Homo sapiens: one gene and its partners. The protein of the gene in region 1 purifies or fractionates together with the protein of each later gene. This does not show direct contact. Each region holds a gene or a part of one and is shown in the gene's direction. Other genes may lie near its edges.

Region 1 (3,500 bases):
TACAAGGTATAAAAATTAGCTGCTGTAAACACTGAATAGGTAATGAATGCATTATAACTACTTAGTTGACCTCAGTTTGTGTACCTATGAAGGAAACTGAGTGGTGTACATGACTCATACAGTATACCATGTTTAATTGAGTAGATAGATTTTGAGGGTATGATTAGTTTTACCTTTATTTAATCATTTTAGAGTTAAAATAGCATTCACTATGTTTTACTGATTTCGGTAATTGTTAGAGATATCACTTGTGTATAATAGTTGATTTAGTCTTTGATGATAATGAAAAGTTTGAAGAAAGTATTTTCATATGGTATCTGGAACACAAAACCTGCTTTCTATCGACAATGGTTTAGGACTATCTTTAATGGGTGAAATTTTCAGTTTCTTTTTTTTATTCATCTCTCCTTCCTTGGGGGGGTGGGAGCAAGACAAAACACTACTAAAATCTTATTTATGTTATTAGGAAGATAGATCCAGAATGCTTAGTGACACAGGCATGGTTCTTTTTCTGCATGTTTGGTCGGTGGGATACTGCCATCTCTAATCTGAGCATTTTTTGGTTTTGTTTTTTGCCCAGGCTACTGCTTTTAAAACAGGCTTTATAGAATCCCTGATTGGTTTATAATTAATTGGCTTGCTCATTGATGGTAGCTAATTAATGAGGCAGTATTGTTCATAAAATTCATAACTTGTCCAAGATCACAAACTCAGTAATAATCTGGCTTTGAAGTATGGAGTCTTATCTGTTATGCTGTTATACTCTTATCCGTTCATTTGTGGCTTCTGAAATTTCACTGGTATAGAATGCAGATAACTAATAATTTTATGCTGTCTAAATATTCCTCCTGACTCGACTGGTTTCAAATAACTGGTTGTCCTGATTGAAAATATTTATAGGATGGTTTGCCAAAGAAGCCTATGAAATTATAAAATATCTAGTCCAGGAACTGGGAGTCACCAGGATGGTCAGGGCAGAGGGTAGATGTTTCATTTTTTAATTTATGCCAGGAAGCTTTTGTAAACTTGTTTAGTTGCTTTAACTGAAGCAACGCAAAGCTGAGGTGGTAAAAGGGAAAATTGCAGTCTTGAGGACTAGTTTCGTTTTTGTCTAGATACTTATAAATCACTGATAGCTCCAATAGAACATTTTTTTATGTGTGCCCAGAGTGGGGAAAGGTATAGGGAAACAAAAAATAAAATATCATGAGGAGGTGACATTTTGTTACTGAGTACCTGAACCTTTTGATGTATGGCAGAGGTTGTTAGGTGGAACAACGTGAACAAAGGGCTAGAACATGGAATGTTTGATTACTGCTTTCTACATAATTGCTTGAGTCTTCATTAGTCCAGGCCTTTTCTGGCTCTGTACTTTTAACTGTTCAAGCAAAGTACATTTTGGGTTAAGCATTGTGAGGGAAACCTAGGCTTTTTTGTGTTAGTATCTTCTTGAATTTTACAGATAATCTCACTCAGTAACCTCATTTGTGCTTCAAATCCTTGAAATTGTCGTATAAGAACAGTGGAAGACCTGTATGTTGTATGCTACATGTTTATTTTAAAATTCTAATCCTGAGAAGTTAATCTTTGTCTGGCTCGTATTAATACTGGCATTTTTCCCCGGTATGGATTTGCTTCTTTGGTATGGCTTATCTTTTAAGGAGTTATTTGGAATTAAGGAGCAGCAATAGGTGGCAGCCCTTTTACCTTTTAAAATATAATATCAGGTGGTCGGTTTTGTTCTAAATGTAATTTATGTATAAAAAGATAAGGTCAAGGGAAACGTATTTTCTTTGTGTGTTTGTGTTTAACTTTCTGGCTAGATTCACCTTTTGCCATTTAAAATAATTGTGAAGTAAATTGTTAAGTGTATTAAATTACACAAGTATAATAGCTTACATACTATATAAAACAAAATACAGTTTTATATCGTTGTAAAATAATTTTTCTAATTTTTTATAGGCTATGGATGAAATGAATGGCAAAGAAATAGAAGGGGAAGAAATTGAAATAGTCTTAGCCAAGCCACCAGACAAGAAAAGGAAAGAGCGCCAAGCTGCTAGACAGGCCTCCAGAAGCACTGCGTGAGTCTACATTTTAGTAGATATATCTTTGGACAAGGAATAACGTGATAATGGAGATCAGATTAATAAAACAAAATCAGAGTCTTGAAGCAAACTGATTTGTTTTTTCTTTTCTCCCTTCTCTACTTTGCTAGGTATGAAGATTATTACTACCACCCTCCTCCTCGCATGCCACCTCCAATTAGAGGTCGGGGTCGTGGTGGGGGGAGAGGTGGATATGGCTACCCTCCAGATTACTACGGCTATGAAGATTACTATGATGATTACTATGGTTATGATTATCACGACTATCGTGGAGGCTATGAAGATCCCTACTACGGCTATGATGATGGCTATGCAGTAAGAGGAAGAGGAGGAGGAAGGGGAGGGCGAGGTGCTCCACCACCACCAAGGGGGAGGGGAGCACCACCTCCAAGAGGTAGAGCTGGCTATTCACAGAGGGGGGCACCTTTGGGACCACCAAGAGGCTCTAGGGGTGGCAGAGGGGGTCCTGCTCAACAGCAGAGAGGCCGTGGTTCCCGTGGATCTCGGGGCAATCGTGGGGGCAATGTAGGAGGCAAGAGAAAGGCAGATGGGTACAACCAGCCTGATTCCAAGCGTCGTCAGACCAACAACCAACAGAACTGGGGTTCCCAACCCATCGCTCAGCAGCCGCTTCAGCAAGGTGGTGACTATTCTGGTAACTATGGTTACAATAATGACAACCAGGAATTTTATCAGGATACTTATGGGCAACAGTGGAAGTAGACAAGTAAGGGCTTGAAAATGATACTGGCAAGATACGATTGGCTCTAGATCTACATTCTTCAAAAAAAAAAATTGGCTTAACTGTTTCATCTTTAAGTAGCATTTTGCTGCCATTTGTATTGGGCTGAAGAAATCACTATTGTGTATATACTCAAGTCTTTTTATTTTTCCTCTTTTCATAAATGCTCTTGGACATTATTGGGCTTGCAGAGTTCCCTTATTCTGGGGATTACAATGCTTTTATCGTTTCAGGCTTCATTTTAGCTTCAAAACAAGCTGGGCACACTGTTAAATCATGATTTTGCAGAACCTTTGGTTTTGGACAGTTTCATTTTTTTGGATTTGGGATAGATTACATAGGAGTATGGAGTATGCTGTAAATAAAAATACAAGCTAGTGCTTTGTCTTAGTAGTTTTAAGAAATTAAAGCAAACAAATTTAAGTTTTCTTGTATTGAAAATAACCTATGATTGTATGTTTTGCATTCCTAGAAGTAGGTTAACTGTGTTTTTAAATTGTTATAACTTCACACCTTTTTGAAATCTGCCCTACAAAATTTGTTTGGCTTAAACGTCAAAAGCCGTGACAATTTGTTCTTTGATGTGATTGTATTTCCAATTTCTTGTTCATGTAAGATTTCAATAAAACTAAAAAATCTATTCAAAACAT
Region 2 (3,500 bases), on another chromosome or scaffold:
CCTGTCTTCATGGAGTTTCTAGTCTAGTGAGGAGGAGTCAAGTGCATTGTCAGTGTCTGTTACATGGTGCTAAATACTACAGAGAGAAAGCAGGGAGCAGAAATAGAGGGAGGTGGGGCAAGTACGCTGCGGTTCTGAATAGGATAGTCAGGGGGGACCTGCGTAGTGTTTTTGAAAGGATGAGAGCAGGTCAGTGTCATGAAAGCAGCCGTCTCATACTGACCGTGTTCTGGGTAATCGGCTAGTGCTTTGCATGCTTTCCTGCTAATCCTCGAAGCCACCTTTTTAAGTTCATGGTGCCAACTTTGAGTGGTGGTGCCATTATTTTGGAGAAGGAAATCAAGTTACTGAGGTTAAGTAACTTGCCCTAAGTCCCACAGCCAAGTGGAGCTGGGATTGGGACACAGAATCCCATGCTTCCTCATCTCCTGTGCTTTATCACAGGCCCAGGAAGGCTGCCTCTTTGTACTGCGTTGTAAAGCACTGACAGTTGCTTTAACTCTTCTGTATTTCAGATCTTGATTCCACCCAAAGGTTTATTTTCAAAGCTCAAGAAAGAGGCTGAAAACCCCCGAGAAGTTTTGGATCAGGTAAACTGAATAGCATTTCTTGCAACCAGTTACTGGTGGTTGGTTCTGTTTTATGTCTGAAAACAGTCTCTGAGGCAGGACCTTGTTATGTTCCAGTCATGGGAATGGTGGGAGAAAAGGCTTTGTTGGCTACAAAGGCCAAAGAAACCTGGAGTCCGGATGCTTCCCAACATACCACAACTTTCTGCTTTGCTCTCAGCCTCAATATATCTCCCTCTTTTCCACTCTAGCTAGAAGACAGAAGGCCAGCTCCCAAGCAGATCAGAGGGTGGAATTTTCATTCTGTCCCAACTCTGCACCTGGGTGGAACCAGGTGCAAATGCCATAGTTTGGAACCATACTTCCATTCTGTTCCGAAGGAGGCGCTGACTTTGATGAAAGCCCTGGAGGTGGTAGCCTCATCAGGAGCAGACCCTGCTTCAGCGTAGCACCAAGCTGTTTCCCATCTCTGCAGGTGTGTTACCGAGTGGAATGGGCCAAATTCCAGGAACGTGAGAGGAAGAAGGAAGAAGAGGAGAAGGAGAAGGAGCGGGTGGCCTATGCTCAGATCGACTGGCATGATTTTGTGGTGGTGGAAACAGTGGACTTCCAACCCAATGAGCAAGGTAGGTCTGTGAGGAGTGACTCCAGATGGGGAGCCAGGAACTCAGACTTCCCGGGAAACCTGGTGCAGGTGTTCCCAGAGAGCAGTAGAATCTCTCAGAGGGCTTTATCAGTGCTGTCTCCTCCCTGCTCCCAAAAGACTTCAGTTCTACCACTTTGCCCAACTTAGATTCAATACGTACTTGCCAGACCCTAGATGGGCCTCTGGAGATAGCTGGAGAGAAAACAGACATGGCCCCAGCCCTTGGGGAGCTCAGACAGGGCAAATAGGTGGGTCTTTGATAAGGAATACCTTTGCCTCTGGCTCACCCTCTAGGGAACTTCCCTCCCCCCACCACGCCAGAGGAGCTGGGGGCCCGAATCCTCATTCAGGAGCGCTATGAAAAGTTTGGGGAGAGTGAGGAAGTTGAGATGGAGGTCGAGTCTGATGAGGAGGATGACAAACAGGAGAAGGCGGAGGAGCCTCCTTCCCAGCTGGACCAGGACACCCAAGTACAAGATATGGATGAGGTAAGCTGCTGGGCAGGCCTGCAGGATGACCTTTTCCCCTGAAGCCCCAGGAGGTCGAAGTGCTCTCCACCAGTCAGATCCAGCTCCCCTGTGAGCCTTGAAAGGAGGCGTGGGTCCTGAACAAGGCCATACAGCTGCCCAAGTCCAGGCAGCACAGAGCCTCTTTCCAGCTCCGGCAACAAAGATTCATTCATAGGCAAGGATCTAAAAGCTGTGCTGACCTGTTCTGTGGCCGCCTCCCTGGCCCGGACAGCCTGCTCTCACTGCCTCGTGCCAGCCCTCAGGGAACTCACTGCATTACCCTGTTCTGTTTTGAGCTCTCAGCTGGGCTCCAAGCTCCCAGAGCTTTTCTAAATGTAGCCCACGCTTCCTTTCAGGCATCCCTACCCCCTTCAAGCCAGGCCCTCTAAGCAGGCATGGAGTCTCCAGAACCAGACTGTTCTCCCCCACTCGGAAATAATTTGTGCACAGCCTGAGAAGAAAGGGCCCCTGTCTGTGGGAAATGACTTTTTCTCTCCCTCCCAGCATTGCTGTGTGAGCAGCTACCATTGATTGGCGACTCGCCGCCCCCACCCCTCGCCCCCTTGGCACTGTCCCCCCCCGGCATGTTAAGTGCCCTTGGCCTCTTGGGACTGCCTGGTGCCAGCTGCTGGAAATGCCTGGGAGGAGTGCTAGGACCGTGGCCTCAGCACTCCCATTCATGCTGTGAGGAAGCAGCTTGGCCTGCTGCCGGCTGGCCTCAGCTGCCCTGGGAGGCTTAGCACATGGACGCTGGCTGGCAGAGGCCAAGGCTCCTTGCCACCCAGAGACCTGCCAGGCTCAGCTACAGGGAGGTGGCCTCAGCCCCTCTCTGAGTCCTGCCATTGCTTTGCTTTTCAGGGTTCAGATGATGAAGAAGAAGGGCAGAAAGTGCCCCCACCCCCAGAGACACCCATGCCTCCACCTCTGCCCCCAACTCCAGACCAAGTCATTGTCCGCAAGGATTATGATCCCAAAGGTAGGGAGGGCCTGCTTCCCAACCCTCGGGCTGCCCAGGAAGTCCTGTGTGCCCTCATGTGTTCCTCACACCCGTCTTTCTAGGAGGGCTTGAGGTGCAGCTTATTGTAAAAGCATTGCAAGCCCGTCTGTTACAGGTTTCATGGTGGGAACAGGGCCCAGTCATCTCTGGTGCCCTAGTGCCTTTCACAGTGCCAGGTACAAGAGTGGCACTGAATAGATGCCTTGATGAATGATGCACGCATGAAATACCACCCTCTTAACTCAGGTGGCTGCCCACCAGTGTTCTTACTGAAACATCTGTTTCCTTTTAGCCTCCAAGCCCTTGCCTCCAGCCCCTGCTCCAGATGAGTATCTTGTGTCCCCCATTACTGGGGAGAAGATCCCCGCCAGCAAAATGCAGGAACACATGCGCATTGGACTTCTTGACCCTCGCTGGCTGGAGCAGCGGGATCGCTCCATCCGTGAGAAGCAGAGCGATGATGAGGTGTACGCACCAGGTGAGGTGGGGGTTCCAGGAGAGCCCATGGTAGTCTCCGAATTACAGCCATCTTCTTCTAAGCAAACATAGAAAGCAACAATTGAGGTCAACAAAAGCTTTTGAGGAGAGTTGCACTCTATGATATTGCAAGAGAACTCCCCACTTTCCAGAAGAACTCCCCATAGAAATTCCCCAAAGGCAGACACTGAAGGAGATGCCATGTGCCTGTTGACATCCCAGAGCAAGCTCTGGCTTTAGCTGGAAGGGCTTCCTGTGGCTGTTTAGAAGGAGAGCATTGATGGCTGGAGTACCATGAGCTC
Region 3 (3,500 bases), about 160 Mb from region 1:
ATGATCCTCAGCCTCCCAAAGTGCTGGGATTACAGGCGTGAGCCACCGCGCCCAGTCTATAGAGATGGAAGTTTTTTAAAGGATCAAGACAGTTGCTTCTAATGTGTTGGTAGACATTTGACTGAAGTGTGACTTTTCTAATGCAGATCTTGCAGGAGAGAGAGTTACTGCCTGTGAAGAAATTTGAAAGTGAGATTCTGGAAGCAATCAGCCAAAATTCAGTTGTCATTATTAGAGGGGCTACTGGATGTGGGAAAACCACACAGGTTCCCCAGTTCATTCTAGATGACTTTATCCAGAATGACCGAGCAGCAGAGTGTAACATCGTAGTAACTCAGGTAAGTGGTAAACCAACCATGAAATACCTAGAGAGCAGACTATTTCTGATTCTTTCTTTGATTAACTAATTTTTGTAATTATTTAAGATTGAGAGAGCATTGTGCCCTTGAAATTAAATTTAAAAAAAGAAAACATAAAAACAACGTAGTCTTTTTCTAATCTCTAGTATGCTACACTAATAAGCTAAACTGGACTATGTGAGGGATTCTTTTTATCTGGGCTAAAGAGTCTCTGGGCCTAGAATCAGACTGTCGAGATTAAGAATTCTTTGTCCTAAAGTTCATCCAAATCTTGGTCATCTCTATCTAACCACCTTGATATTGAGTAAAAACCAGTCAGACAGGTAATGGTTAACTTTCACTGTATGCCATGTTCTATTCTAAGCAGTAGCTTTTTAGAAAAAACTCAATCGAAGTTCATAATGACCCTAAGATGTAAGTACTATTTCACATAGTATTTCTCTTTCAGTAAATTAAGGCATAAAGAAGGTAAAATGCCCAAGGTTAACACAGAAAGTGGTAGAACTAGGATTAAAAAACCAAGCAATCCGCCTTTTAGGATTCTTCCTTTTAACTAACACTGTATTACCTTACCAGCAATGAGCAGCGCCTGCATGTTTGTCCCAGTACTTAGGGAAGAACTGATTAGCTCTTCTAAGTGCTCTCAGGTTAAACAGTTCCGTTGGCTCTACCCTGTACTTCTGGCACTTTGTGGGAGAGCATTGCAAATAGCCAGGTACTACCTCTGAGGTAGGCTTACATCTTGACTTAGAAATTATTTTTTCCCCGATGGGTTAATGTTGCTTAACCTGGGAAACATAATCAGTTTTCAGAGGAGAGTTACAAACTTTGAAATGTGTGCATGTTCATTTACATTTGCATGTATAAAGCATATATCTGAAACTTTTTAACATTTCTGAAATTGAGATACATTTTTATAATTAGTATATTTGTATAATTGTATAATTAGTATAATTGTATATTTTATGTGAGAATTGGGTTTTCTCCTGAAAAAAAAAATTGCTGTGAAGGAATCATGTTGCATCCTAAGGCTGATGATACCTTAGGCTTGAAAAAATATGATAAATTGACATTTTTCTGGGAAAGGATTCCTAGCTTGTTCACAAAATTTTCTTTGATTTTCCGACTCACCCCTAAAACTGGCTATGGATTTTTTGACTTACAGTGAAGGCTGCAGCCCCAGATGTCATCATACTCCAATAAAATATTCTTACTCTTAATTCTTACCTCATCTTTCAGGAAGAACATTGTTCAAGAGTGCAATTTTACAGAAGAGAAGCCTTGAGCTCAGCTCTGCTCTGCTCTTCTCTTCCCTTCCTCTCCCTTCTACCACTATCCATTTCTAATCTCAAAAGCAGTTGTGGCATATAGCAGAAAGAAGCAGAATTTAACAAGCGAGCTGTGAAGACAGGAGTCTCAAGTTGTCTGCATGTCATAAATAGAGTAAAAATTCCTGCCCAAGTGAGAAGTGCTTTGTCTCACTGTCTTTTAAAATGTTCAGTGGCATGGAAATGTATTAGCAAACCTGTGTCTTCTGATTTGGGGTGAATTACTTATAACTCATATTGCATCTACATTCTGTGGCTTGCATGTTTTTGTCCTAGCGTTTGTCCCAAAATCAGTCTCATACCTCTTACCTGTAACAAGTCTTCAAAATTTTAAAAACCTATATTGTGTCCTAGTATGTACTTAGTTTGAAAGTCTCAACTAAACATTTATAGTTCAGCCATGAAGGTACAGTAAGTCTAAGATTTAAACACACTCAAATTCATCAGCACCTACCTGTAATATGAAAAGTAGGCCTGAGCATGCTGATTGGTTATTACAGAATACAGTTTTTTATTATTTTTGTTTTTAATATACTGTACTTCTTTTGGCACAGTCTGAGATAGCATTAGTTATTTTTGTAGTACTACCACTGTTGAATCATTTTTCCATTATCTTGCACTTGTAGCCATCTATAGGAAACCACATGAAGTCATCAGTTAAGTATTAGAAAGTTTTTTTATGTTCCTGATTTTAAGTGTATTATCTCAGTTCACAGAGCACAAGTTTAGAGTTATGGACTGGCGTATAACAGAATGAGTAGCTCAAACCATGACATCAGCCTTAGTGTAAATTCTCAACCAAACTCACTGAATTTTATCCTTCGGTCTATCCATACTCAAGCCACTTAAAACCTGTGGGCTGTATGCAGAAAATTTTAAGTAGGAAATAGTTGTCTTCTACCTTTAAAGTTATTTGAAAGAGATGAATTGTAATTGTAGGATGTAAATCAAGCATATTAATGTAATTTTATCAATCCTGTACTTACCCCATAGTACCATCATTTCAGGATAAGAACGGTTCTTTGTATAAAATAAATTCAGAACCTTAGAAGATAGAGATAGTGGAGCCTGATACATTTTGTAGTATCTAGTGCATTAGGAATCTTGACATTTTGTGGCAGCTTAGTCATGTTACTGTGTATATAACGCTTAGATGTGAAAAAGCAAAGTTGGGACCTTTTAGAACTTCAGTTTTGAAAGATGGAAGAAATTGCTGTAGTTCTGAGTAAATGGCAAGAGGTGTACATTAAAGGTATGGATTCTAGAATACTACAAAATAACAGTTTGGGAGAGATCTCCAACCTCTTATGGTATAGAAAGTGTTAGTTACCCAGTACCTGGTACATAGTAATTTCAGTGACTGCTTAGTACATATTATTAGAGCTACTTCAGTTAAAGCAGACAGAAGTGTGGGGAAGAGGTTAGCACTTGAAATTACCTACTACTATGGCTGGACTCCAGGCAAGAGTAGTAAAATTCTAAAGAGAAAATGAGATAAGCAGATGTATGCAATGAAAATTAAAAGCACATATCTGGAGGACAGTTGGAACTATTCTTCCAGCTTTCTGTTGGAAAAATATTATCCTTTGCTTTCATCACTGGTACTTTCTAACTAGTCTCACTTTTGTCGGTTATTGTTTTATTTTTAACATATTTAGTAATCCAAGTGTAACATAGTTAAAATAATAAAAAGTAAAATAATTGGAGAAAGGATTATATTGGGAGTAAAGGAAATTTGAAGTCTTAAGTCATTTATGTGTCCTTAGGCAAAATAACCTTTTTGAACTTGTGTTTTTAATCTACTAGAATGCAG
Region 4 (3,500 bases), on another chromosome or scaffold:
ACTTATAATTGTTACTATAGTTCTGATCTGTTTATTCATTTCTACAATTCATTCTGGGTAGTCAAGCCCCAGTTCCCTCCCCTGCCCCCTAGCAGTAAGAATAGAGATCATATTTTCTTTTATTTGAAATCAGAGATTAAGAAACAAAGCAGTAGTATTCTAGTACAAATTCTGAAATCTTGATTTAAGAAGTTCTCTTCTAGATGTTTTTGTCTAGCATCCGTGGGCCAAGAGTCCCCCTATATGCAAGGTTTTGTGCATACATAATTTTGCTGGGGTTGGGGAAGAGTGCATAGAAAAAAATTACAACTCAACTGAACTGGAATGACGCTGTGGCTGATCTTTCTAGTCAGCTTTTCCTGGCAAGTCCGAGGAAGCTTCTGTGAGAGTGAGGAAATGTTAGGGGAAAGGTGGTTGAATACAAGTAAGATGGAAGTGCCATGGTTGTCTTGTGTTTCAGATTATGCTTTTTATGTAAGAGTATTGGAGTACGATAGAATTTATTCCTGAATGTTTTTGTCTTCAGTGTGTTCCCTGGATATTGTTTAAATTGAGTGTTGTGCATCAGCATATTTTGAATGTATGAAGCATGCATGTTTTTCTGTTTCTTGAGACAGGATCTCATTATGTTGCCCAGGTTGGAGTGCAGGGGCATGCCACAATCACAGCTCACTGCAGCCTCAGCCTTTCCTGGGCTTAAGCCAAGCTTGTCCAACCCGCTGCTTGCAGGCCACATGCGGCCCAAGAATGCTTTTAATGCAGTGCAACACAAATTCTTAAACTTATGAGGTGTTTTTTTTTTGTCTTTTTTAAAGACGAGTCTCACTCTCGCCTGGGCTGGAGTGCGGTGGTGCAATCTCAGCTCACTGCAGCCTCCGCCTCCCGGGTTCAAGCGATTCTCCTGCCTCAGCCTCCTGGGTAGCTGGGATTACAGGCATGTGCCACTACGCCCAGCTAATTTTTGGTATTTTTAGTAGAGATGGGGTTTCACCATGTTGGCCAAGCTGGTCTTCCAACTCCTGACCTCAGGTGACCTCCTAAAGTGTTGGGATTACAGGCGTGAGCCACCGTGCCTGGCTGGTTGTCTGTCTTTTTATTGATTAAGGGAACATTTGTTTTATTTTTTTGAGATGGAGTGAAGTGGTGTGATCTCAGTTCACTGCAACTTCCACCCCCTGGGTTCAAGCAGTTTTCCTGTCTCAGCTTCCCGAGTAGCTGGGATTATATGCACCTGCCACCATGCCCGGCTAATTTTTGTATTTTTAGTAAAGACGGGGTTTCGCCACGTTGGCCAGGCTGGTCTCGAACTCCTGACTTCAGGTGATCCACCCGCCTTGGCCTCCCAAAGTGCTAGGATTACAGGCGTGAGCCACCGCGCCCGGCCAAACATTTGTTTTATATTGGAAATATTTTCTTCGAATTTTCCACTTTATAGACCTCACTTTGTGTGTGTGTCATCTTAGAAAGGTTTTCTCTCTATTTCTACATTCTATGTTCAGATTCAGAATCTACCTGGCATTTAAGATTTTTCAATGTAATGTGAATTAAGAGTTCTACATTTTTTCATTTGTCCCAGTGTGTCATGTATTGAGTAGCCCAAAGTCCTTTTTCCCCAGTACTTTAAAATGTTAACTTTAGCACAGTGAATTCCCATAATTGCTTGGGTATATTTCTGGCCTCTGTTTTATTACCGTTTGTTCCTATGCCACTCGCATACTGTTAATGTAGTTTTATAGCATGCTTATATATATTGCTGGCCTAGCGAGTGGTTCTTTGCAAGTCTTCATTGCTCATTTAAAAGGTCTTTGCAATCAATTTTAGAAGAACCTTCCTCTTGAGTGTTCTTTATACCGTAATATTTATGGATCCTCTGCTCTTGAATGTAAAAACTTTTATTTTAAGATGTGGGTATTGTAAGATTCAACTACTTTTTTCTCAAAGGCATAGTGAAGCATCTTGTCAGCTTGAATTGTTAGAATAGTCAAAATTTAATTGGGAAATGCTTCCAGTGGTGCCCAAAAGTCAATTTAGTAGGCCTGGGATGTATTTATTTAGATAATTAAATTTCAATATTGAAAATCCAATCAAATTCAGTATCTAAAATCTTTAAAAGTTTCTGTGCAGCCTTCACTTCTGTCAGTTCTCTGACCTGGCTAGGGTAATGCATATGTGTAGTTTGCCCTTAATAATTGGGTATTAAGGAAAAATTGTGAACTCAATGGGTAAATACAAGATGATTAAGCATTAACAGGGTTTAGTTATTTGATTCAGTGATTTATAATTGTCTAAATTGTAACGCTCTTTTTTTGCTCCTCATTCTACCATTACGTTAACTTTTTTTTTCTTTTTTTTAATAGGTTATGATGGAGGGTGGTCGCAGCAAAGGGTTTGGTTTTGTATGTTTCTCCTCCCCAGAAGAAGCCACTAAAGCAGTTACAGAAATGAACGGTAGAATTGTGGCCACAAAGCCATTGTATGTAGCTTTAGCTCAGCGCAAAGAAGAGCGCCAGGCTCACCTCACTAACCAGTATATGCAGAGAATGGCAAGTGTACGAGCTGTTCCCAACCCTGTAATCAACCCCTACCAGCCAGCACCTCCTTCAGGTTACTTCATGGCAGCTATCCCACAGGTAGGTTTTAGAAGGCAACCAGAACCATGAAGGTTTTCGTATTTGGTCATTTCTAGTGTTTTTTGTGCCCCTCGCCCCGCAAATGTGAAACATTAAGAAAGGGGAATTATGATTGAGTAGGAAAAAATGCTTGAGTGTGAAGTCCTGGTAAATGTTTTGAAAAAGTACATATAATTTATTGCATTATTTGCTTTTTTCTTCAACTGATAAACTCATGTGCTTTTTTTCCCTGCAGACTCAGAACCGTGCTGCATACTATCCTCCTAGCCAAATTGCTCAACTAAGACCAAGTCCTCGCTGGACTGCTCAGGGTGCCAGACCTCATCGTAAGTCTTTTTTCTTTTAATTAAGGTTGGGGATTGAGTTAAAAATAACACATTGGGTAAATCAGCTCTTCTATGTCAATGTTAGGTTAACTATTGCATTTCACATAATTTGTGGTTATGGATGTTCATTTTTATAGCATTTAAAAGCAGTGCTAAGATAGTAATGTCTACAGTGGTTTGATTTCCCTTTATAAAAGTTTTGGGAATAGGTACAGCTCTTCATTTTTTATTTATTTATTTATTTATTTATTTTCGAGACAGAGTCTCGCTCTGTTGCCCCAGGCTCGAGTGCAGTGGCTCAGTTTCGGCTCACTGCAACCTCCACCTCCCAGGTTCAAGCGATTTCTCCCTGCCTCAGCCTCTGGAGTAGCTGGGATTACAGGTGCCCGCCACCACGCCCAGCTAACTTACGCATTATTAGTAGAGATGGGGTTTGACCACGTTGGCCAGGGTTGTCTTGAGCTCCTGATCTCAGGTCATCTGCCCACCTCAGCCTCCTAAAGTGTTGAGAGTACAGGCGTGAGCCATGGCACCCAGCCAATTT
Region 5 (3,500 bases), on another chromosome or scaffold:
AAAATGTTTTGAATATGGAAGATAAAACAAATCAAGTTAGAATTTGTTTCCCTATGGTAAACTACTGTACAGTTTTAATTCCATGGTAACTCTTAGGTTTAATTTTGAAGCAAAATCTAGAGGCTGAAATTCCTCACTAAATCTATATGTAAGCACAGTTTAAACATCCTTCTCTATAGGAAAATTGTAACTTTTGCTTATTTTTATTGGCACTGATTTTTTTTGTATTACCTATGTGCTGATTATCTTTAAAATTTTAATTATAGAAAAGTAAAATATTTTTGAAAACCTCTTAAAATTTTTCACGCATGTGCCAAAAAACCCATACTTCTATATAATTTACGCTACAAATTGCTGTACATACAGGTTTATAATTTTTTCGCTTTATACAGTCTATCTTCTGTAGCCTTTTATACCACATTGGTAGCAATACTTTCTATTAGGGAAATTATATACTTTTAGGTGAGAGTACCATATCTTATTTACCCTTACCCTGCCTGTCACCCATTTAAGTGAATCCTTTTCTTTTTAAAAAGTGTGAAATGCTCTGTAACATACCACATATTTTAAGTATTTTCTTATACTGACATTCATCATCACTTAGTATGTTGTTTTGGTTTTACGTAGACTCATCAGTCACAGGTTTTAACTTGAATACCATTGAGGTGGTGGTTTGTTTATCTGTAAGCCCTCCTTATCTGAAATACTGTCCTACAATCCTATAGCTGTCACTAAGAAACAAATTTTGATCCTCTTTGCAATGTTGGTGAAGGATTTGGCCAAATCCAAATTGCTATTACCAGCTTGCATTTCAGGAGACAGCTGAAAATTGAGGGATGTAAATACTGCTCTGATTAATCAGATTGCAAAACATTTAATACAAAAATTGCTCAGAGTTATTTCTAATCAACTCATTAAATAACTTCTGTTATTTAAAGGGTAACTTTATCAATTACAAATTCATCATTTATGATCATCAAAATCATAAAATCAATCCCTGCATTAATCCAGTTAGTAGTTACTTACATTTTGCTGAAACAAAAACTGAGCTGTGTTGGTTACAACTGTCTGTGACTTGCCCATGTGATTACCAGGCTAATTTGTCATTCTATGGGTTTTAAATTCTAAGGGTTTTAAATCAAGAGATTAGCCTGACATTATAATGGATATTTAGTATATATCTTTTGAGTTGTAGTAATTGAATATGCTCAAAAGTCAGTTATAAAACTCATTACTACTACTGAATGCATTCAAATTTCAACAATACTGAGTTTTTTACTTGCTTTATATCTAAATTTGGTACTAATTAACTAGGTAAAGAAGTGGGAAGGACTAGCAAGTGTAAGTCTCTGCAGTTTTTTTTTTTTTAATTTGGCAAACAGTTACTAAATGCCTGTTTTGTGATAGTTGCTGAGTGTTGGGATGAGTTAAGATCTAGTCCCTGGCTTCTAGAAACTCACAGATTTTATTATATATTTTTTATTATTAACTGATAAACTTTTCTTATTCTATGATGAAATAATACTTCCAGGTATTGCTCAGTTCTTTCCGTAATTCAAACATCTAAAAATTCAACATCTGAAAGTAATGTAAATTAGTTATGTCTGAAATTTTAGGTCAAAACGAAAGGGAGGCAAGATAAATAAGATTTCCCCCCCCCCCCCATTTAGCAATCTCCAGTTACTTCTTTAGCTTTATGAATGGAAGTTGATGAATTAGGAATTAGTGTAACATTCCTGCATAAATGCATTGTATACTCTGTAAAACCTGCTGTGAAAAAAAAAGTTGATTAAGAATGCAGGAATCTGGTTAATTTGCCCTCACAGCAGGCAGTGTAGGTAAAACTTTTCCTTGCTGGGTGACCACAACTTGTTTAGAAGAGGTTACTTAGGTATTTTTTTCAGAAAGTAAGAGCTCTTGAACAATGTGGAAATCTAGTATTTTAGGTTTGGTTAAACTGTTTTTCATGAGTTGTTATTAAAAGTGGAATGATTTGTACACATATTTTAAAGTCATAGTGATTTTCTACAGGTGAGTAAAAACAAACCTCCCTTAATCCTTTTTTTTTTTTTTAATTTTATTCCTTATACTACTCCCAGATGTGAACGCTTCCTGATTTGGGGGTTGGGGGACACTATTTCTGCTTTCTGCTCTATAAATCTGTTGTCCTTATAGAATATTCCCATTCTAGTGCAGATTTTAAGGATGTGATTTCAAGAAAATAAATGAAAATAAATTACTAGAGTTGATATTATTCAAATCTATTTTTAAGAACATGCTTTACAGGAAATATTTGATACAGGATATTTGCTCCTCATTAGACTGCAAAATGCTTTATTTACATAATATATTCTGGCATAACCATTGGAATAGTTTTAGAATTATTGTGAAACTTTTTAAATTTTATTTGTCTTTCTACTTAACTCTAATGCAGGATACTTTGGCAGCAATCTCAGAAGTTCTTTATGTTGATTTGCTAGAAGGGGATACAGAATGCCATGCTAGATTTAAAACTCCTGAGGATGCTCAAGCAGTAATAAATGCCTATACAGAAATTAACAAGAAACACTGCTGGAAACTCGAGATCCTTTCTGGTAAAACTTCATAGACGTTTCCTTTTTTTTTTGTTATCATCCTTATTGTGAGTAATATATTTTCTGAGTTTGGCTAATGAAACTAGTTTTTTTTTTTTGGTCTTGCTCTGTCGCTCAGGCTGGAGTACAGTGGTGTGATCTCAGCTCACCGCATCCTCCACCTCCCAGTTTCAAGCAATTCTCCTGCCTCAGCCTCCAGAGTAGCTGGGATTACAGGCGTGTGTTACCACGCCCGGCTAATTTTTATATTTTTATTTTATTTTTTGAGACAGAGTTTCGCTCTTGTTGCCCAGGCTGGAGTGCTGTGGTGCGATCTCGGCTCACTGCAACCTCTGCCTCCCGGGTTGAAGTGATTCTCCTGCCTCAGCCTCCCAGGTTAGCTGGGATTACAGGCATGTGCCACCATGCCCCGCTATTTTGCATTTTTAATAGAGACGGGGTTTCTCCATGTTGGTCAGGCTGGTCTTGTCTCGAACCCCGGACCTCAGGTGATCTGCCTGCCTTGGCCCCCCAAAGTGCTGGGATTACAGACATGAGCCACTGCACCAGGCAATTTTTATATTTTTAGTAGAGAAGGGGCTTTGCCTTGTTGGCCAGGCTGACCTCTGGTGATCCTCCCTCCTCGCCCTCCCAAAGTGCTGGGATTAGAGGTTTGAGCCACCGCACCTGGCAAAACTAACTATTTTTTTTCTATTCTGTAATATGTGTAAAGTAGCATTAAATATAATCAAAAACTGTCCTAGTTACTATTATTGAGAATGTAATGCCTTGAATATGGTTTTTCAGATATGTTCTTCTTTTCATCCATCAGAGTCTTTGTTTGTTTTTAAGGTGATCACGAACAAAGGTATTGGCAGAAGATTTTGGTTGATAGACAGGCAAAACTTAATCAGCCTCGGGAAAAGA
Region 6 (3,500 bases), on another chromosome or scaffold:
CTATGAGGATTATTTATTTTGATGCCCAAATTGTCCCTGGTATGTACATGAGGAGCCCCGGTAAGCTCTCTCTCTCTCTCTCTCTCTATATATATATATATATATATTTTTTTTTTTTTTTTTAACGTCCCCAGCCATTCATTGAGCATTCCCTTATTTTCTAGAACAACATATTTAGGATCATCTTGCGTTTTCTTGCCCTATCACTGGAATCATCTATTTATTCATGGAGCCCTAGTTTCTAGTAAAGTAGTAATGGAATATGGTATTTAGGAGCCAAGATCTGGGCACTTGATATGCTCATTGCCATTGGGGTGTCATTGGTTCTAAGCCTCTTGGTGGACACACATCCATCCATCCATAACTGTTTTTATGTCCACCTGTGTGTATATATGCCTCCAATTCCAACTCAATACCTTATTTCTACACTTCTTCTCTACCATGATTTGTAAACACCTTCTCAGGCAGTAACAAACTTGGCTTCCATTATCCTCAATATTTATTTATTTGATAGAATATAGCCAGTTTCCAAAGCGTGCAGTCATCTCCACCATGCCCCATCATCACCCCACATACTTGGCCACCAGGCTCATGAGCTCACTCACCCGCACCTCAGTGCAAGCCAGTGAGTTTTGCAGTATGCCTGAGATTTGGTGTGCTGGCTTAGACAAAAACTCAAAGGATTTTTTTTTCCCTTTCACTTCTTGGTTGTCAGCTGAGTTCAAGTTGTTGGAGATCATGACTTTCCAGGTAAGTCGGGTGTTACCGAAGAATGGGACTGATAAAAGATATTTTCTGAGGCTGTTATTTGTATTGTAGGTTGTCTTACCATCAGCGTATATTAGATATTGTTCCTCCTACCTTCTCAGCTCTGTGTCCTGCAAACCCAACCTGCATTTACAAGTATGGAGATGAAAGTAGCAGTAAGTAATGAAACTAATCCCTCTGTCTTTAAAAGGTACCAGTTCAAGTATATCTGAAGTTAGTTGTTTAAAGTGGAGAAATTGAACTTTTTCTTTTCTTGGGGTTTATATTTCCTGTATTTGAAAGGTGGTCTATCATTAGCCACTGTTTTATTTGCCCTGTCATCATTTTGAGGATTTGGTTGTGATAAAATTAATTACTACTGGCTTATCATTTTTTCTCTTTTGAATGTGTTAAGTATAGCAAGATGAATTTATAGTTAGAACTTACTAAACTGAAAACGTGTATTTGTCATGGTGATGGAGGTTACTTGAATTCATTATCTTGTTCAGGTGTGGTATTGAGAACATAGATGCACATATTTGTGGCAGTATGCCTTTAAAAGTAAATTCTTAATTATGATTTTCTTACCTTTTGGTCACATAATCTCTGAAATTGCACCATAAATCAGGGAGTGTAATTTGATGTGCCATTTTGCCCTTTGCATAGTATTTACACTTAATGAAGGTAAAGTATTATACATTGTTGATCACTGGTAGAGTTAGGTGTGGAGTTTTTCCAACTTGTTCTTTGCAGATTACACTTAACACAGCCCCTCCATGATCCTTCCATTTTGTGTTGTGTAGAGGTTCTTTGTATCTCACAACTTTCTGCTGTTCTTTGCTTTTCATACTGTGTGCCTGTTTCTCCACCTCTGTCTCTGACTGTACCTGTTTTCCTTGAAATGAACTGTGTCGGTCCTGGTACATTTCCTATTTCATTATGTCAACTCTGAAGAATAGATATGATTATCAAAACTACAATGAGGAAATGACTTCCAAGAGGTCAAGCTAGAATGAGATTGCTTTTGAGTGGTGGAGCCCAAATTCAGGCGTAGGTGCACTAACTGAGTGGCCATGCTGTTAGCCACTGTGCTTTTTGGCAGATCAAAGGTTTATGCAGTACTTAGAAGTGCTGGGTTTTGAGTTTTGTCCTGTACTGGTTCCGAGAATGATAAGGTGTAGTCTTTGCTATCAGAAAGCTCAGGCTTTTGTTGAAGATTAAGCTTTCTTTTTGCCCCATAGGAATAACTCCGCCTAACATTCAAGGCCTTCATAACCATTGTTCCTACTTTGTTATTTTTCACTTCTCCCCACATGGACCTCTATTTCTGCCAGGTCCATGTACTTTTTTATTTTTTCCATACTCCCTGTTCTTGACTTTGCCATTACCCCAGTCTGGAAAGCCCTTTCTAGCTCCACTTCCTTTTCTCCTTCTAGATTCTAGCCCAAGCTCAATAGCTGTAAATATTTTTTAACCGTTAGCAAGCCAGTTTTGTATTGCTTCCTGGCTGTGTCTAATGTGAATATCTTGGTTCCCCAGCTAGAATGTAGACTGGTGACAGGGGATTCTGTTTTTCTTCGCCTTCTTTTTTTTAGAGAAAAAGCTCACAGCAGGTGTAATATGACTGTCCTCACATGACTGTTGTAATTTACTTTATTCATTCCAGTAACTCATACTCTATAACAGGATTGCCTTTTTTGTTACCTCTTTGTCTACCTTACATTAAAAGCAGATTTCTTGTTGCTCTGGTGATGCCTTACGGTGTATATTAGCACAAATTTTTATAATAAGGACTCAACTGATACCAACCAATAGTAAATACAAGGAGTCCCATCACGTGAGCATCTGACTTACGTAGATTCAAGCTTGTGGACTCAGCAAAAAAGAAAAGTACAAAAACAAAACCTCTCTGAAGTTGGCAGCCATTACCTTGTTGAGACTCAGACTTCATTTCCACGGTCCCGAGGAAAGAAAGAGGAAGTGGGTGTTGGCAAAATGAAAGAGAAGTACGTTGGTTCTGGGATTTTGAGCCCAGGAGAGTTGAGGGCATTAAAAGACAGTTTAACTGTGTCCACTTTTCTCCTTACCATTCATCTTGAGGATGATCAGCACCTTGTGCTCTAAATTTTACTTAGCTAAGTGTCCTTAATGAATTGTTGAAATGAGAATTGTCCCTTTTTAGGTGAAAAACCATTAACCTATTAGAAAAAGCTTTCACATACGGTATTTATATGTGATTAAATATTGACCTTGGGATAAAGAGCATCCTATTTTGAAAGGAAGAATTTAAAAAAAATTTTTCTCAGTTATTTAACTGTTCATTAGAATAGTCTTGAAACCTGATCTGTCATTCCCCTTACCCCCAATTCTGTGTTTAGATTCTCTTCCTGGACATTCTGTTGCCCTCTGTTTAGCTGTTGCCTTTAAAAGTAAGGCAACCAATGATGAAATCTTCAGCATTCTGAAAGATGTACCAAATCCTAACCAGGATGATGACGACGGTAAGTGGAATTCAGTATTTCTTAAGTGGAACTATGTATAGGCCAACTTAAAGCATAAACATAACTCTGGCAACATGATGCTCTTAAAGCAATATATCTATATCTGTTTGACCTGTTCAGACTGTTGTTCTTAGCACCCCAGGTATTTTCCCCTTATATAAAAAGAGATCCTAACATTTCTGTGATATAGCTTACTTAAGAATATAAACTTCATCGTAAATACAAAGTGAAATATGTTACCATTCAAGGATT
Region 7 (4,206 bases), on another chromosome or scaffold:
GGCATGTGCCACCATGCCCAGCTAATTTTGTATTTTTAGTAGAGACGGGGTTTCTCCATGTTGATCAGTCTGGTCTCGAACTATTGACCTCAGGTGATCTGCCCGCCTTGGCCTCCCAAAGTGCTGGGATTACAGGCGTGAGCACTGCACTCGGCCTTTTTCTTGAAACATAAAATTAGTCATTTTAATTTGCAATAATTTCTGTAGTTATTAAACAGGCTATTGAATCCATCCACAAAACTTAAGATACAATACTTAAGAACAGGGCTCTAAATAACAAGTGCCAGCTCTCTGATCTCATGGCCAACAACCTGAGATTCCTGCCATCTGGTCTCAGTTCAGGACCTTTGCACTTACTGTTAAACACCGCCCCCCCGGCCCCACCCCAGATCTCGCTTCTATCTGTCCTTTATTCAAATGTTACCTCTTCAGAGGGGCCTTCCATTATCACCCTTTCTAAAACAGCCTCGCTCTCACTTCCCATCCCTTTATTCTGCTCCATCGTTCTTCATTATGCTGGCCACTATCTCAAATTATCTTTTATTATTTATTTATTTATTTACTTTTGAGACGGAGTCGCTCTGTCGCCCAGGCTGGAGTGCAATGGCACGACCTCGGCTCACTGCAACCTCCGCCTCCCGAGTTCAAGCGATTCTCCCGCCTCAGCCTCCAGAGTAACCGGGCTTACAGGCGCGCACGGCCACGCCCGGCTAATTTTTGTATTTTTAGTAGAGACGGGCTTTCACCATGTTGGTCAGGTTGGTCTCACACTCCTGACCTCAGGTGATCTGCCCGCCTCAGCCTCCCAAAAGTTCTGGGATTACAGGCGTGATCCACCGCGCCTGGCCTCAAATTATCTTTATTCAGTTAAATGCTTTTATTGTCTCTCCCAGTACAATGTAAGCCCTAGCAGCAGAAGACTTTGCTTTAATCACGTGCTGTACCCCCAAAGCCCAGACAGTGCCTAGCACACACGAGATGCTCGATGAATAGTTATTGATTGAATAGATTAGACATCAACGCAATCAGGCTGTTCACCTAGGGACTCTTTGCTAGGCGGCGGAGAGGTACGTTACAGTTCTCTACGCAAAACGCATGCGCGAAAGATCCGGGAAGTGTGATCGGAAAGGGGCGGAGCATCAGGGAGAGTCTCGCGGACATAGGCGGTTCGGCGCGGAAAGCGGGAGGTGGAGGGGCGGCTTGGGGCAAGCGCGCGCGCGCAGTGCAGAAGCCAGCCCCCCGCGGCTGAGGTACTCAAGGTGCCCAAAGGCGGGGTAGTGACCTCGCGCGTGCGCTGTGCCCGCGGCAGCGCCGGGTCCTAGTGTGTGGGTTGTTGTTGGCACCGCACGGCGCGTGCGCAGTGAGGACGGCGGAGGGATTTGCGGCCGGGACCCACCCCCTGCTCCAGTCGCTATCGGAGGCCGCGCGGGTGGCTGAGCAGCGGCCTGGTGCGCTCGCTTAGCGGGCGACGGAATCAGACGGACGTGGACGCCCCCGGAGTGGAAGCCGAAGCAGGAGTTGTTGTTGCTGAGGGGCTGCCGCAGCCGCCGCGAGCCTCCGGACAGACGCCAGAGCGAGGAGGGCGCTACGCGGTGAGTGAGTGTGACTGAGTGGCCCGACGGGGTGCGGGGCCGCTACCCAGAAGCCCCAGCGGTGGGCCCGGTCCTCTTCCCCGCGGCCAGGCCCCTTTCCCGCGTCCCCGCCACAGGTCCCTTCTGCATCCCTTTCCCGGACCCCGAAATCTCTGGGCACCCACGCCCGCTTCCCACAGCGCCCTCGTGGTTCCCTACCCACAGGCCCTTGCGGTGTGTGGCCTTTTTTCTTTTTCGTTTGTCTATGTTGTCCTGGACCCTTACCCATAATTCCTTTCGCTTTTTGCGGGGTCCAGGTCTGTTACCCACAAGCACTTGGTTTTGGGGCTTCGCTCCTTATGTTTCTCTTTCTTTGCTTGGAAACTTCCGATCCCCAGGACCCTGCAAACTGCATCTCGTAATTTGCCCTCCACGGCACGGGACGAGCAGCCACAGCTGCTCTGGGCCTCCCTCCTCGGGTCCTTGATTTCCCCAGAAATTCCCAGGGAACCTCTCCGCCCCACAGCTCGTGTCAGAGGACTCTGAGACTTCACTCTTCAGGAACCCTTTTCCAGCCGTTATTTTTGTTTTCTTTACCGGCCTTTCACCTCCACCCCCACCAAGACGTACCCTTTTCTCCGCAACACAGGACTGTTCTCTGCCCTTACAGAGCCTGTTTTAATTCCGAGACTTTTCTCCTGTCTTTCTTATTTTGAGAGTCAAGGAGTAACAGGGGCTTTCTCTGTGCAGACCCGATCTAACCTAAGGCTGTCCTGCTTCTGCTCTCAGACTTGGCAAGATGACCCAGTTCCTGCCGCCCAACCTTCTGGCCCTCTTTGCCCCCCGTGACCCTATTCCATACCTGCCACCCCTGGAGAAACTGCCACATGAAAAACACCACAATCAACCTTATTGTGGCATTGCGCCGTACATTCGAGAGTTTGAGGTGAGTTCACTGAGCAGGCCAGGAATGGTTTGGGTTCTGGGGAGCAACGGGTTGGATTTGCGAGTCCAGCTTCTGGCCATTTTGCCAGCTGCGTGATTTAAGCGAGGGGCTTAACCTTTGTGATCCTCAGTTTCTCTGTTTTAAATGGGGTTGGAGCCGGGTGTCGGGTGTGGTCGAGTGCGTCTGTAGTCTCAGCTACTCAGGAGGCTGAGGTGGGAGGATTGCTTGAGCCCAGGAGTCGGAGGCTGGAGTGCTTTGTGATTGTGCCACTATACTCCGGCCTGGGTGACAGAGCAGGACTTCGTCTCTCAAAAAAAAAATTTTTTTTTTAAGTGGGGTTGTGGCCCGGTACGGTGGCTCACGCCTGTAATCCCAGTACTTTGGGAGACCGAGGCAGGCGGATCACTTGAGGTGAGGAGTTGAAGACCAGCCTGGCCAACATGGTGAAACCACGTCTCTGCTAAAAATAACAAAAATTAGCCGGACATGGTGCCTGTAATTCCAGCTACTTGGGAGGCTGAGGCACGGGAATCACTTGAACCCAGGAGGCGGAGGTTGCAATGAGCCGAGATCGCGCCACTGCACTCCATCCTGAGCAACAGAACAAGACTGTCTCAAAAAAAAAAAAAAAAAAAAAGTGGGGTTGATAGTACACCTTTTGTAGAATTTTTGTGAAAATTCAGTGAGTAGTGGTTGAGGATTCATGCCTAACCCACACCATTTATCAGCTCTGACTTTGGGCAAATGTTGTATCCTCTTAATGCATTGGTTTCTTTATCTTTAGCAAGGGGATAGTGGTAGCACCCTTATAATGTTGGTGGAGAATTAAATGGCAAACTGTATGTCAGGGGGCTTGGCACCAAGCAGTCAGCACATGTCAGCCTTTGTTACTCTGTTTACTACTTTTATTGTTAATAAGATGATGTTCATAAAGGCTTAGCACCCAGTATTGAGTATTGGAGGGCTTAAAACTGCAGATGGGGATCTTAGCTCTGCACCTTTGGGATAAATAGGAATGAATGACTTAGGCTCCTGGACCTCTGTGTTTTTATTTGTGAAATGGGATGACAAGGGTCATCTCTTAGGTGCATCAGAGCACACCTGAGAAAAGCTGGCACACAGTCGGAAGTTACAAGAAGAACGTTCTAGCATTGGGTAGGTAAGGGCAGCTGGAGGCGAGGGAGTTGCAGAGCAGAATTTCGTAGATAACAGAAAGGTATGTCTTCAGTGGGATTTGCCACCCTTGGTGAACCCGCACTTGAGAGATATTACTGGCCAATTAACTTAATGGGCACAGGCGGGTGGTAGGTGCCCTTTGATGATGCAGGTCATGTGCCAGTTACCATTTATTTATTTATGAGACAGTTTTGCTCTGTTGCCCAGGCTGGAGTGCAGTGGCGTGATTTTAGCCAACTGCAGCCTCCGGTTCAAGCAGTTCTCCTGCCTCAGCCTCTCAAGTAGCTGGGATTACAGGCATGCACCACCACGCCTGGCTAATTTTGTATTTTTAGTAGAGATGGGGTTTCACCATGTAGGCCAGGCTGGTTTCGAACCCCTAACCTCAGGTGATCCACCCCCCTTGGCCTCCCAGAGTGCTGGGATTACAGGTGTGAGCCACCATGCCTGGGAGCCAGGTACTTTTTTTTTTTTTTTTTTTTTGACTTGGAGTCTCGCTCTGTTGCCTAGGCT

Evidence for each region.
Region 2: the proteins of HNRNPR (region 1) and SF3A1 fractionate together in Homo sapiens (co-fractionation; 2 studies listed by BioGRID). This does not show direct contact.
Region 3: the proteins of HNRNPR (region 1) and DHX9 fractionate together in Homo sapiens (co-fractionation; 3 studies listed by BioGRID and IntAct, with this or other methods). This does not show direct contact.
Region 4: the proteins of HNRNPR (region 1) and PABPC1 fractionate together in Homo sapiens (co-fractionation; 3 studies listed by BioGRID). This does not show direct contact.
Region 5: the proteins of HNRNPR (region 1) and LARP7 purify together in Homo sapiens (affinity purification with mass spectrometry; 4 studies listed by BioGRID and IntAct, with this or other methods). This does not show direct contact.
Region 6: the proteins of HNRNPR (region 1) and NCBP1 purify together in Homo sapiens (co-immunoprecipitation; 2 studies listed by BioGRID and IntAct, with this or other methods). This does not show direct contact.
Region 7: the proteins of HNRNPR (region 1) and SNRNP70 purify together in Homo sapiens (affinity purification with mass spectrometry; 3 studies listed by BioGRID and IntAct, with this or other methods). This does not show direct contact.

What each region holds. Positions count from the first base shown.
Region 1 is NC_000001.11:23,309,785-23,313,284, reverse strand, and holds part of HNRNPR (heterogeneous nuclear ribonucleoprotein R), read left to right. Parts: intron 1-1,962; coding exon 1,963-2,084; intron 2,085-2,218; coding exon 2,219-2,831; 3' UTR 2,832-3,500. UniProt on the Homo sapiens protein: Component of ribonucleosomes, which are complexes of at least 20 other different heterogeneous nuclear ribonucleoproteins (hnRNP). hnRNP play an important role in processing of precursor mRNA in the nucleus.
Region 2 is NC_000022.11:30,339,895-30,343,394, reverse strand, and holds part of SF3A1 (splicing factor 3A subunit 1), read left to right. Parts: intron 1-515; coding exon 516-590; intron 591-1,044; coding exon 1,045-1,195; intron 1,196-1,509; coding exon 1,510-1,703; intron 1,704-2,582; coding exon 2,583-2,700; intron 2,701-3,013; coding exon 3,014-3,199; intron 3,200-3,500. UniProt on the Homo sapiens protein: Component of the 17S U2 SnRNP complex of the spliceosome, a large ribonucleoprotein complex that removes introns from transcribed pre-mRNAs.
Region 3 is NC_000001.11:182,859,847-182,863,346, forward strand, and holds part of DHX9 (ATP-dependent RNA helicase A), read left to right. Parts: intron 1-146; coding exon 147-338; intron 339-3,500. UniProt on the Homo sapiens protein: Multifunctional ATP-dependent nucleic acid helicase that unwinds DNA and RNA in a 3' to 5' direction and that plays important roles in many processes, such as DNA replication, transcriptional activation, post-transcriptional RNA regulation, mRNA translation and RNA-mediated gene silencing.
Region 4 is NC_000008.11:100,708,589-100,712,088, reverse strand, and holds part of PABPC1 (polyadenylate-binding protein 1), read left to right. Parts: intron 1-2,357; coding exon 2,358-2,630; intron 2,631-2,865; coding exon 2,866-2,956; intron 2,957-3,500. UniProt on the Homo sapiens protein: Binds the poly(A) tail of mRNA, including that of its own transcript, and regulates processes of mRNA metabolism such as pre-mRNA splicing and mRNA stability.
Region 5 is NC_000004.12:112,650,643-112,654,142, forward strand, and holds part of LARP7 (la-related protein 7), read left to right. Parts: intron 1-2,434; coding exon 2,435-2,594; intron 2,595-3,425; coding exon 3,426-3,500. UniProt on the Homo sapiens protein: RNA-binding protein that specifically binds distinct small nuclear RNA (snRNAs) and regulates their processing and function.
Region 6 is NC_000009.12:97,657,821-97,661,320, forward strand, and holds part of NCBP1 (nuclear cap-binding protein subunit 1), read left to right. Parts: intron 1-819; coding exon 820-923; intron 924-3,125; coding exon 3,126-3,248; intron 3,249-3,500. UniProt on the Homo sapiens protein: Component of the cap-binding complex (CBC), which binds cotranscriptionally to the 5'-cap of pre-mRNAs and is involved in various processes such as pre-mRNA splicing, translation regulation, nonsense-mediated mRNA decay, RNA-mediated gene silencing (RNAi) by microRNAs (miRNAs) and mRNA export.
Region 7 is NC_000019.10:49,084,045-49,088,250, forward strand, and holds the start of SNRNP70 (U1 small nuclear ribonucleoprotein 70 kDa), read left to right. Parts: upstream 1-1,406; 5' UTR 1,407-1,592; intron 1,593-2,360; 5' UTR 2,361-2,370; coding exon 2,371-2,517; intron 2,518-4,206. UniProt on the Homo sapiens protein: Component of the spliceosomal U1 snRNP, which is essential for recognition of the pre-mRNA 5' splice-site and the subsequent assembly of the spliceosome. SNRNP70 binds to the loop I region of U1-snRNA.